Regions from separate parts of the Homo sapiens genome. Here region 1 is linked to region 2. The links come from fine-mapping of genetic effects on gene expression. A gene starts in region 2. The other region holds a variant in brackets. All regions are shown on one strand. Distances are between the middles of the regions.

Evidence for each region. PIP is the estimated chance that this variant, and not a neighbour inherited with it, causes the effect.
Region 1: its variant is fine-mapped to the expression of LINC01801 in whole blood (TOPMed, PIP above 0.99).

Annotation. Positions count from the first base shown.
Region 1 is chr19:34,814,055-34,819,433 of GRCh38, forward strand. LINC01801 (long intergenic non-protein coding RNA 1801) reads right to left here. Exons shown (of 6, transcript NR_033982.1): 5 at 4,533-4,712; 6 at 2,100-3,436. Among named protein-coding and RNA genes, the nearest start is that of LINC01801, 16 kb to the right of the region's middle. The variant T/C (reference allele first, on the strand shown) is at 2,702.
Region 2 is chr19:34,830,868-34,836,246 of GRCh38, forward strand. LINC01801 (long intergenic non-protein coding RNA 1801) reads right to left here and starts at 2,002. Exons shown (of 6, transcript NR_033982.1): 1 at 1,858-2,002; 2 at 1,463-1,669.

The DNA.
Region 1 (5,379 bases), 17 kb before region 2:
AGTTCCAAAGGAACAGCCAGAAAGTCTCACTGGGGAAAGGCCCCTGGGTTTCCACCTTTGCCCTGTGGTGACTTTCCTTCACATCCTTTGCAGTGCACCCTCTGTCATGTAGCCCAGGGAGGCATCACAAATATCAGGATGAAGAGTGCATGGTTTGCCTTGGAAGATTAGGTAGCTAGGAAGCATCTCCAAACTGCATTCTACATCCTCAGTATCAGATAGGTATGCCCTGCTTTTCAAGGGCAATGCTTTTAGGAAGCTTCTCCCCCAGCCTCACTGAATGCCAGTCCCCTGACTATCACCCCACTGGTTCATCCAGACCACTGTGCTCCTCCCTCACTTCTACAGATACCTCAGTCTTCACTGACTAACTGATATGGTTTGGCTCTATGTCCCCACCCAAATCTCATTTTGAATTGTAATCTGAATTGTAATTCCCATGTGTGGAGGGAGGGACTTGGTGGGAGGTGACTGGATTGTAGGGGTGGTCTCCCCCATGCTGTTCTCATGATAGTGAGGGAATTCTCATGAGATCTGACGGTTTATAAGTGGCAGTTTCCTCTGCACTCTCTCCTGCCACCAAGTACGACATGCCTTGCTTCCCCTTTGCCTTCTGCCATGATTGTAAGTTTCCTGTGGCCTCCCAGCCATGTGGAACTGTGAGTTAATTAAACCTCTTTTGTTTATAAATTACCCAGCCCCACATAGTTCTTCATAGCAGTGTGAAAACAGATGAATATATCAACCCATCATTAACTGGCCAACCTTATCACTTCCACTGCCCAGTCAGCCCATCTGCAGACTTGACCTCCCAGCCTGCTTTGAACCTTTGAGATGACCGACATGGACACTACTATTCCCTGGGTCTCATCTCCTGGTCCCCCCAGGACCCAGGGTTAGCCTGGAAGACTCAAGCTCTGGGCTAGGTTTCCTCTGGTCTTGGAACTCCCATTTGACTGGCTCATTGCAGTGTGGAGTGGACAGCCCCCTGCAAAAGGCAGTCCCCACTAACCCACCTATGTTTATGGTAAACAGCCCTACCCCACTTTGAACCTTTCCTTTAGCCCAGAAGCCACCTCTCAGTCACATTTGGAGCTCCTAAAGGGCAGCAGCAAAGAGTCAGTCTTCTAGGATACCTGTCTGCACCATCATACTTATCACTACTTCAGCAATTGTCTGTTTTCTAGTAGCTAGGACCTTGACCAACTGGGCAGCCAAGTCTGCCTTTAACTCTGATGAAATCAATATGGTTACCATGTCCTCTTTCTAGCCTCCCCCTGGCAGGATCCCCCAATGTATTTGATAGCATTTACCCTTTGAGAAACGTAAAATCTCAATACAAGCTCTAAACTGAGCCTTTACTGCAGCCCAGACACCCAATGGGAGCATAATGCCATCAGATTTTGCGTACGTGTTACCTCCATATCCATCTTTGATATCTCTGCTAGCACCCACTCAGCCTTGGGTGGCACCTCGGGTCCTTTTCCCATTTGCACAGCCACTACTTCTAGCTCTGGAGCCATCACTGGATGCTCAGCATCAGGCACAGTTCACCTTTTGCTAACCCCTCTCTCGACCCATTTCCATTCATGGACTCTGGGGCTTCTTTGGATAATGACAGCTCTAGGACCAGTGTGTCTGCCCCAGACCCAGCTCCACATCTGAAGCACTCAGCTTTAGAACAGGGCCTAGAGGGGCATGCAGCACCTTAGTTTATGTTGGGGAGGCTTACACATGAGCACCGGGGTTCCTGCAAGCCTACAGCACCTCTGGTACAGTTGGAGAGGGCAGTACTACTGAAAGCAAAAACTCCTGGGAAACACTTTCCTCCCTGCCTACAGTCAGAGCAGCTGGGGCCTGTCCTGCCAAAGCACACCTCTTAGAACATCACTGAGAAGAAACATGTTCCAGAAGGCACCTCTGTTCCTTCTTGTGTTCATAACACCTGGAAACCATCTGGCCAAAGCACGTCTGTTGTGGTTGGAGGAGCCCGCACATACCAGTGCTTGGGACACTTCTGTCTTGCAGACAGACCACCTGGAATGCAGCTGGCCAGAGCACATCTGCATCCCTCAAAGGGAAGGAGAAAGCAGCACATCTATGCTTGGAGGCCTTTATGTTTCCACCACAAGCAGAGCACCCTGTTGCACCTTTCCAAGCACCTATGTTGCAGTAGCAGGGGACAACACACTACCTGTGACTGCAAGTCTTCTCTTCTTGTGTCTGGTCAGAGCGCTTGGGGCCCATATGGCCTGGGCAAACCTGTTACTGCTGGAGAAGCCTGCACAACAGAGAAGAAACATGTGCCCCAAGATACTTCTGTTCATGACTTCTGTCAAACGCCTTTGGACCACTCAGCTTGAGCACATCTGTTTCTGTTGGAGGGGCTGGTGCCATATCTGTGACTGAAGAAACTACTGTTTATGAATACAATCAGAGCATGTGAGGGCCATAAGTCCAGAGTATAGGCAGTGCAATGCCTGCAATGGGAGGAGATGGCACCATACCTGTAATGGGAGGAGATGGCACCATATATGGGTTTGTTTGGGGGGGACACTTCTGTTCATGAACACAGCCAGAACACCTGGGGTCCACAAGTCCTGAATTCAGGTGTACAATGGGAGGAAACAGCACCCCACCTGTGCCTGCAGAAACTTCTGTCCATGAATAGTCAGAGAGCCTGAGGTCCACAAGTCCAGAT[T/C]AAAGATGGTGCAATGGCAGGACACAGTCCCACACCTATGCTTACTCGCGAATACAGCCAGAGTGCCTGGGTTCCACAAGTGAGGATTCAGATGGCAAGTAGAGGGTACAGTACCATTCAAGTGTTTGGGTACCCTTCTCACCATCATTCAGAGCAACTGGGACACTGGTGGCTGGAGCACACTTGTTGCAGTCAGATGGGAGAACATGTTGAAGAAGATACTTCCATTCTCACCTTCAATCAGAACACCAGGGGCCTAAGCCAGGGTACCTTCCCTCTTTCATTTTGGAGAAAACAACATCACTGAGAAAATATCTGTGCTTCAGGACCTTTTCCACCTGCTTTTGATCAGGTCAAATGTGCTTCTGTGGTGGGCACGGCAAGCACAGCCTCGTCTTTGGGGCACCCTCGGCACCTGCACAGGGATTCTTTGGGGACAGAAGCATGCAGCATCACCCTATTTGTTTTCTTCTCATGTAAGACTTAGGGTCCTCAGTGACCAAAAGCAAAAGCTTCCTCTAGAAATGGCAGGTGACCACTGTTCCCCATGATTTGATCTTGTTCTGCTGGGAGCAGTTTCTGCTCCTTCTAGTTACGGCAAACAAGCTTCACCTGCCCTTTGTCCTTCTAGCACAAACTGGAAGCCCAAGACCCTGGGGTGTTTGTGAATGTGTCCAAGGACTTGGGTTCAGATGAGCCAAGTCAGAAGTCGACACACTAGCCTAAGATGTTCACCTGTGGAGAGAAGAGAGAGATGGGTGAGTATCAGCCGTGCAACACTACACTCTAGTTTCAGTGTTATCCTGGAAGACCTAAGCTTTGGGGGGGTTTCCTCCTGTCTTGGAACTGTCAGGACACCCACTGCTATCTATGTCTGCCATGTTTCCTCTGCTCATGTGTTTTTGCTCTAACTCAATGATGGAGAAAATACTGACTTGTATAAGCCATGATTGTTGAGCCAGGCTTAACTGTGCAAAGTTTCTGTGGCCCAGGGCCCAGGATCTAGAACATGGAGTTTAAATGTCTTTTTTGCTTGTTTAATTTAGTTGTATGCCAGTAATTCACACACATTCACAATTTTTTTTTTGGCTGCAGGGGGTTGTGGGGGAGAGATGGGGATCTCATCATGTTGCCCAGCCTGGTCTCAAACTTGGCTCAAGTGGTCCTCCCGCCTTGGCCTCCCAAAGAGTTGGGATAACAGGTGTGAGCCACCACGTCCAGCAACATTCACACTTTCACCTATGGATGATTGGCTTGGCAATCAGGCTTTTGGGCCTGGAGGAAAAAAGGAAGAAAGAACTCACGCATGACTGCTCCGTAATTTAAAAAAAATTTAAGTCTGTTAGGATGTAATAGATTACATAGATATTGGTATCATGTTGCTTTGACACATTACAAATGATTATCTTTTAAGGTAAATAGCAGGATAGGTTCTATTTGGAAAAATAACTGGTCTATCTCGAGTCCTAACCACAAAAATATCGTCACAAGATTTATAATTTCACACAGACTTGGCTGACCTTGGAGTTGTACTGTGCTGAAAATACAATCTTTTTAAAGTATTTTACAACCCATGAAGGTATCTTAAGATGGTGGAAAGAAAAATAAAGTACAAGCATTTCCTTCAGCTGCTTACAGATTACAGTTGTCCCTTGAACAATGCGTGGGGGTAAGGGGTGCTGCTTCCCCCACGCAGTCCAAAATGTCTGCATGACTTGTGACTTCCCCAAAACTTAACCACTAGTAGCCTACTGTTGACTGGAGGCCTCACTGATAACATGAACAGTTAACACATTCTGTATGTTATATGTATTATATACAGCATACTTACAATAAGCTAGAGAAAAGAAAATGGATGAGTGGATCATCATAAAGGTTTCATCCTTGTCATTTTCATGTTGAGTAGGCTGAGGAGGAGGAGGAGGATGAAAAGGAGGGGTTGGTCTTGCTGTCTCAGGAGAGGCCGCAGTGGAAGAAAATCCACATGTAAGTGGATCTGTGCAGTTCAGACCTGTGTTGTTCAAGAGTCAATGTATTATATTAAACAGTGCTAGGTCTTGGTGATATAGAATTCAAAGATTTATCTCTTGCAGCCCAGCAATTTACAGTATAGCAGAGAGAGACAGATAGATAAACCAAATATTACACCTGGAAAGATAGTGGTGGCGATACGGGAGTAGGTAAGAAGGACATAAAACTAGGTGTGAGAGAGATGGAAAAAATAAAAAATAATAAAAAAAAGAAGAAGGAAGAAGTGTCCAGGCAGAGAAAGGCTATTTGGGGGTCAAAGAAATAGCATGCTAAAAGTCAGGGAAGACTAATCTGTGTAACAAACCTGCACATGTATCCTGGAACTTTAAATTCAATTAAATTAAATTAAAAGTCAAGGAAGAAAGAGATCATGACCCTGTGGGACACCAGGCAAGTAATCAAATGTGGTTGGAGAGTGAAACCCAAGCTGGGAGATGTGGCTGCTGTGTTCAGCAAGTGCAGATCATGGACAAACAGACATACCATCAGGGGGCATTTGTCCATTATCCACAAAGTATGAGGAATCGTGAAAGGATAAGCAAAGAAGTTACATGATATATGTAGATTTTAGAAACACTCTATGCCTCCCTGAAAGGAAGAATTAAATAGATGCCAGAATAGAAGCAGATAGGCTTAGGAAATTTTTT
Region 2 (5,379 bases):
AAAGACTTAACGTTGTGTTACAATTGCCTCAAATTCAGTATATGCCGTACAGGTTTGTAGCTACAGGCTATACCATATGGCCTAGGAGTATAGTCAATTATACCATCTAGGTTTGTGTAGGTACAGTCTATGATGTTTGCACAATGACGAAAATCACCTAATGATGCATTTCTCAGAAGGTATTCCCATTGTTAAAGCGACACTGGACTGTATTATATGTATTACCTATATTCTACCAATGAACTATCAAAAATTAAAATTTAAAAGATTCCATTTACAATAGCATTTACAAACCCCATAGAATACTTAGAAATAAATTAGCAAAAGCTGTGGAAGATCTATGCACAGACAACTGCAAAACAGTTGCAAATTTTCTCTTAAAAAGCCAGATAGTATGAGGTTGGTACAAAAGTAATTGCGGTTTGAAAGTAATGGCAAAAACCACAATTACTTTTGCACCAGCCTAATAAGTAGCATAGCCTTTGTGGGTCACGTTGTCTGTGACACAGACTCTTTGTGTTTCTGTGTATTCTGCTGCAACTCTTTAAAATTGTTAATAGGATCCTTCACTCACTGGCCTTACATGTAGGCTACAGGCTAAATTTGTTGGCCCATAGGCTGCAGTGCTGACCCTTGCTGCGAAATATTTCTAGGAGAAAATACTCAAGACCTAAATCTATGGAGATATATATCATCCCTGTGGCCTGGAAAAGTTAATATTGGCAAGTTGTCCATCTTGGCCAGGACCCTGAAAGATAGTCTATGTTATTGTAAGAAAGATTGGTGTCCTTGGGGGCATGGGCTTTTAAGCCAGGGTGGAATCTGCAGAAGTCTGAGGTGCCATTTCCTGTCCCTATACCTGGGAGAAAATAGCTCTCAGACAGCTGTGTGGCTTTCTGCAAAGCTCAATTAGAAGAGAAATTATCAGGCGTGGTGGCGCATGCCTGCAGTCTCAGCTACTTGGGAAGCTGAGGTGGGAGGATCTCTTGAGCCCAGGAGTTCGAGGTTGCAGTGAGCTGTGACTCCAGCCTGTGTGACAGAGTGATACGCTGTCTGGAGAAATTCATCATGGAGATATGCTGATAATTGGTGGTCCCTGCCTACATCCTCCCAGGAGACTGAGCCAGACCCGGTGTGGCCAATGGTCCACTTATAAATTGAACCATGTTAGACCTCCTAACAGTGCAAGTACTCATTACAGCTCTGACATGGTGCTAAGCACCCCAAGTATTATAAACAAGTGTAATCCATTATGCACACACGGTGAGGCTACACCAAAGTCTGGTGGTTAAATGCATGATCTGTGGAATCAGACAGCATGGGTTCAAACCCTGGCTGGGGTGAGATGGGGAACTTTCTAAGGCTTAAATGCTGTTTTACCAAATATTTTAAAAGAAGTGAAAATACACTGCCTGTTAGAAAGGGAAGTTTTGGGGTGAAGCATGTGGGCAGTTTAGAATACCTGGTGTCCACCTCAGAAACCATCACAGCCCAGATGTTATAGGTTCAGGCCTTTCCAGGGCGGGCACATAGAATGTCCTCGCCTCCAAGGTTTGGAGAGCTGCGCTATAAAGGTTCTTGCAGGCGGTGTCCTGAGCCCAGAGCTGCCTGCAGGCGGGCAGGAGTTGTGGGGGTGTTGGCATGATCTGGTGTCCTCTGTGGCGGCTGCCTGAAAAGAAGAGGCCGAGGGTTCTTTGTCCTATGTCTCTCCGAATCTTAATACCTGCCCTGCAGCAGACTCCCTGGCTGCCAGGGCACACCGGTCACCCCGGTAGACGGTGCCGCCCCGCCCTCGCCAACCCCTTATCCCAACTCCCATTTCCAGCCTTCCAGGAAGCCCGATCCCCACCCCCGCACCATGTGAGCTGCTCCTCTACTCCGCGTAGGGGAGGCTCTGCCTCCGGTGACCCCGAGGGAAAGAGCTAGAGCACCCACAGGTGCTGACTGCTGCGGCGCTGAGGACGCTGCACACCCGTTCACCGGCTGACCCAGTGCTGCTGACAACCAGCGTCCGCGGCCCCCAACCGTCGAACAGAGCGCGTGGGACCATCTGGTGCCAAACGCCTGCAACGGAGTGCAGAAGGTCACGAGGCGCTAGAGACCGGTTGGGGGCAGGCGGTTGGGCCTTGACGCTCTTTGCTGGGCGTCGTTTTTTCTTCTCGCCCCCTTCGCTCCTGTGCGCTTAGTGCACAAGCCCTGGGCTCACACACCCTTTCTCTGTCACGTGTTCCAACAGCATCTCACCTGCATCGGGCTGAACAGGAGACCTCAATTTTCTCCTCTACTCCAAGGATTCGCCGGCTCACAATTGCTCTTCATATCTTCAGCAAGCTTTGTCTGTGCCCTGCCCCTCTGTCCCCCATTGCCTACCATACCCGCTCCCACCAAGCCTGCATCACCTCGCTGTCTCTGTGCCTCTCCCCGGCCCCCTTCCAGGCCTTTCTCCCACAATTTCTGGTCTTTGCTCCTGGGTGTTCCGTCGACCCTAAGAGGCGGTGTCTGATCTGGCAGGCTCAATGCCTTTCTCTGGCGCTGTCTGCACCTCCAATATATTCAGTGACTCAGGAAGGATCCATCCTGCAGGGCCCAGATAGACTCTCCTGTTTGCCACCTGAGCAGAAAGGCACCTCTGTGAGGTCTTTGCCACCCAGTCACCCTACCAGACCCAATCAGCACGTGGGAGACGTGGATGACAGGAGGACAGAGATGGAGAGGGACCAAAAGACTACATGGGGCCTTGAAGGATGTCATAAGAACGTTGCCTTTTACTGAGAGATGGGAACCATGGAGGGTTTCAAACTGCTGAGACTGGCATGATATGACTTAGGGCTTTTTTGTTTGTTTGTTTGTTTGTTTTTTCTTTTTTGTGACGGAGTCTCAGAGTCTTCCTCTGTCATCCAGGCTGGAGTGCAGTGGTGTGATCTTGGTTCACTAGAACCTCTGTCTCCCGGGTTCAAGACATTCTCCTGCCTCAGCCTCCCGAGTAGCTGGGATTACAGGCACCCACCACCACGCCCGGCTAATTTTTGTCTTTTTAGATGTTTTATCTCAGAGAAAGAGCTTCCATGTTCTCTAACTCTTGTAAACAGGTATTCTTCAAGAAACTTTACAATATAACATTCATACACAGAAGTGTACAAATCATCTGTCTATTCCTCAATACATTTTTGCAGAATGAACAAACCTATGTAATCTAGATCAAGAAGCAAAACACAGGCACCTCAGAATCAACCTCATGCTCATTCCTAGTCACTATGCCCCTCCCAAATTTTTAACATTATAGATTAGTTTTGCCTATTTAAAAACTTTATATAAATGGAACCCTACCATGTGTCCTGTTTGTGGCTGTGTCTTTTCATTCAACACTTCATAAAATTCATCCATGTTGTTGCTTTTAGCAGCACTTTATTCTTTTATATTGCTGTGTGATGTTCCATTGAACAAATATAATTTACCCATTCTATTATTGATGGATGTTTGGCTATTAGAAATAATAATGCTACTGTGGCTAGGTGTAGTGGCTCATGCCTGTAATCCTAGCAGTTTGGGAGACTGAGGAGGGAGGATTGCTTGAGACCAAGAGTTCAAGACCAACCTGGCCAACATAGTGAGACCCCCATCTCTCTTTAAAAAAAAAAAAGAAAGAAATAATGCTGCTGTGAACATTCATGTGTATGTTTTCGACTACTTCTGAGGTAGGACGCAGGACTCGACTCCAGAGCCGGGGCTTGGACACTGGAGCAAATTGAGGACTAGCTAAAACAGGGTCAGGGTGGAAGCAGCTTTCCATCAGACACACCCACCAGTGTGCTATGTCAGTTTACATTTGTCATGGCAACATGCAGGAATTACTGCTCCTTTCCATGGCAATGACCCAATGACCCAGAAGTTACTACCCTTTTCCTAGAAATTTCAGCATAAACCACCCCTTAATCTGCATGCAATTAAAAGTAGATGTAAATATGACTGCAGAACTGCCCTGAGCTGCTGCTCTCTGCGCCCTGCCGATAGAGTAACCGTGCTCTGCAGGAGCAGTCACAGAGCTGTAACACTGCCTCTTCAATAGAGCTGTCTTCTTCCACCACCAGCTCACCCTTGAATCCTTTGCTGGGTGAAGCAAAGAACCCTCCCAAGCTAAGCCCCAATTTGGGCTTGCCTGCCCAGCATCACTTCCAATATCATGGAAATTTTCAGTGATGCCTACTATGAGGTTTATTGCTTAACTTTTCACATTTAGCTCTGGAATTCTCCTGTCGATTTGCATGTCTTTTGTAGATTTATTTCATGTTTATTGATGCTACTATAAATCCTCTGAAGGGATTTACCTTTGGATGTAGAAGGCAGCTAGGATGGGAAAGCACACTTTATTCTGAGATTAATGTAAGTCAGAGCCATGCTTCACTCTTTTTGAAGGCTGGCTCTCTCCTGTTATCCTTATTTCTGGGATACTGGCTTTCAGACGTTTTACATGAAAACCTGAGTATTTTTTGGGGACCCTCTTCATTGGCAGGTCCTGACTCTGAATTTTTTTCTCAGCAGCCGCTGAAATTGCTGAATTTTACCTCCAAAACTTGATTTGAAAAAAACGAAGCAAAGGTAGAAAGAATATCATTCTAAAATCATTGTTTTATAAACAGATTTTGCTACGTAGATGCAATTGGCCATAATAATGGCAGAGAAGGCCAGATTTTCTTTCTAACTGTTATAACAGTTTTTAAACATGAAAAAGGTTCATTTAGAAAACAATGTTAAGGTAGGGGCACGGCAGAGAATGGGAAGATGGTCAGCCGGGAGGAGCAGTGCAAGAAGAGAGCAAAGACACAAGCACTCTTGTGTGCAGAAAAGGCATGGTGAACATAGGGGTAAAAATCACTAGCCCTTCTCGGAGCAATTCCAACATTATCTGAAGGAAAGTCCATGGACCATGAGAACCCCCCACCTTCTGAGACACATATATCTGGACTGTGGGACTTTGACCCATGTTGGATCAGCCAGATCCCCTCTCCCTGGAGCAGTTTGTCGGCACAGGAAGAGAACAGCTCAGCCCTTGGAGAGAGAGTCACTTATGGGTAGGATGCCCTGGCTTCCTATGGCTGGCAAGTGTGAAAGTTGATTATATAAATTGAGCCATTCTTGTTATACCCAACTAAAACAGAATTGGAAGGCCAGGAGGAGAAAACACACTCAGGGCACGCCAAGAATGTAATTCTTTGCAAGCCTAGCTGCTGAAATTGCCTGCTGTAACCCAAAAACGGTTTTATGTAGTAGCTTCTGAAACAACCTGCCGGACTCTATGATTACTTTTACCCACTGCTATCACTTACCAATCAGAACTTGCCAGCTCCCCAAAACTTTACTAGTGCCAATGAGTTGTCTTTG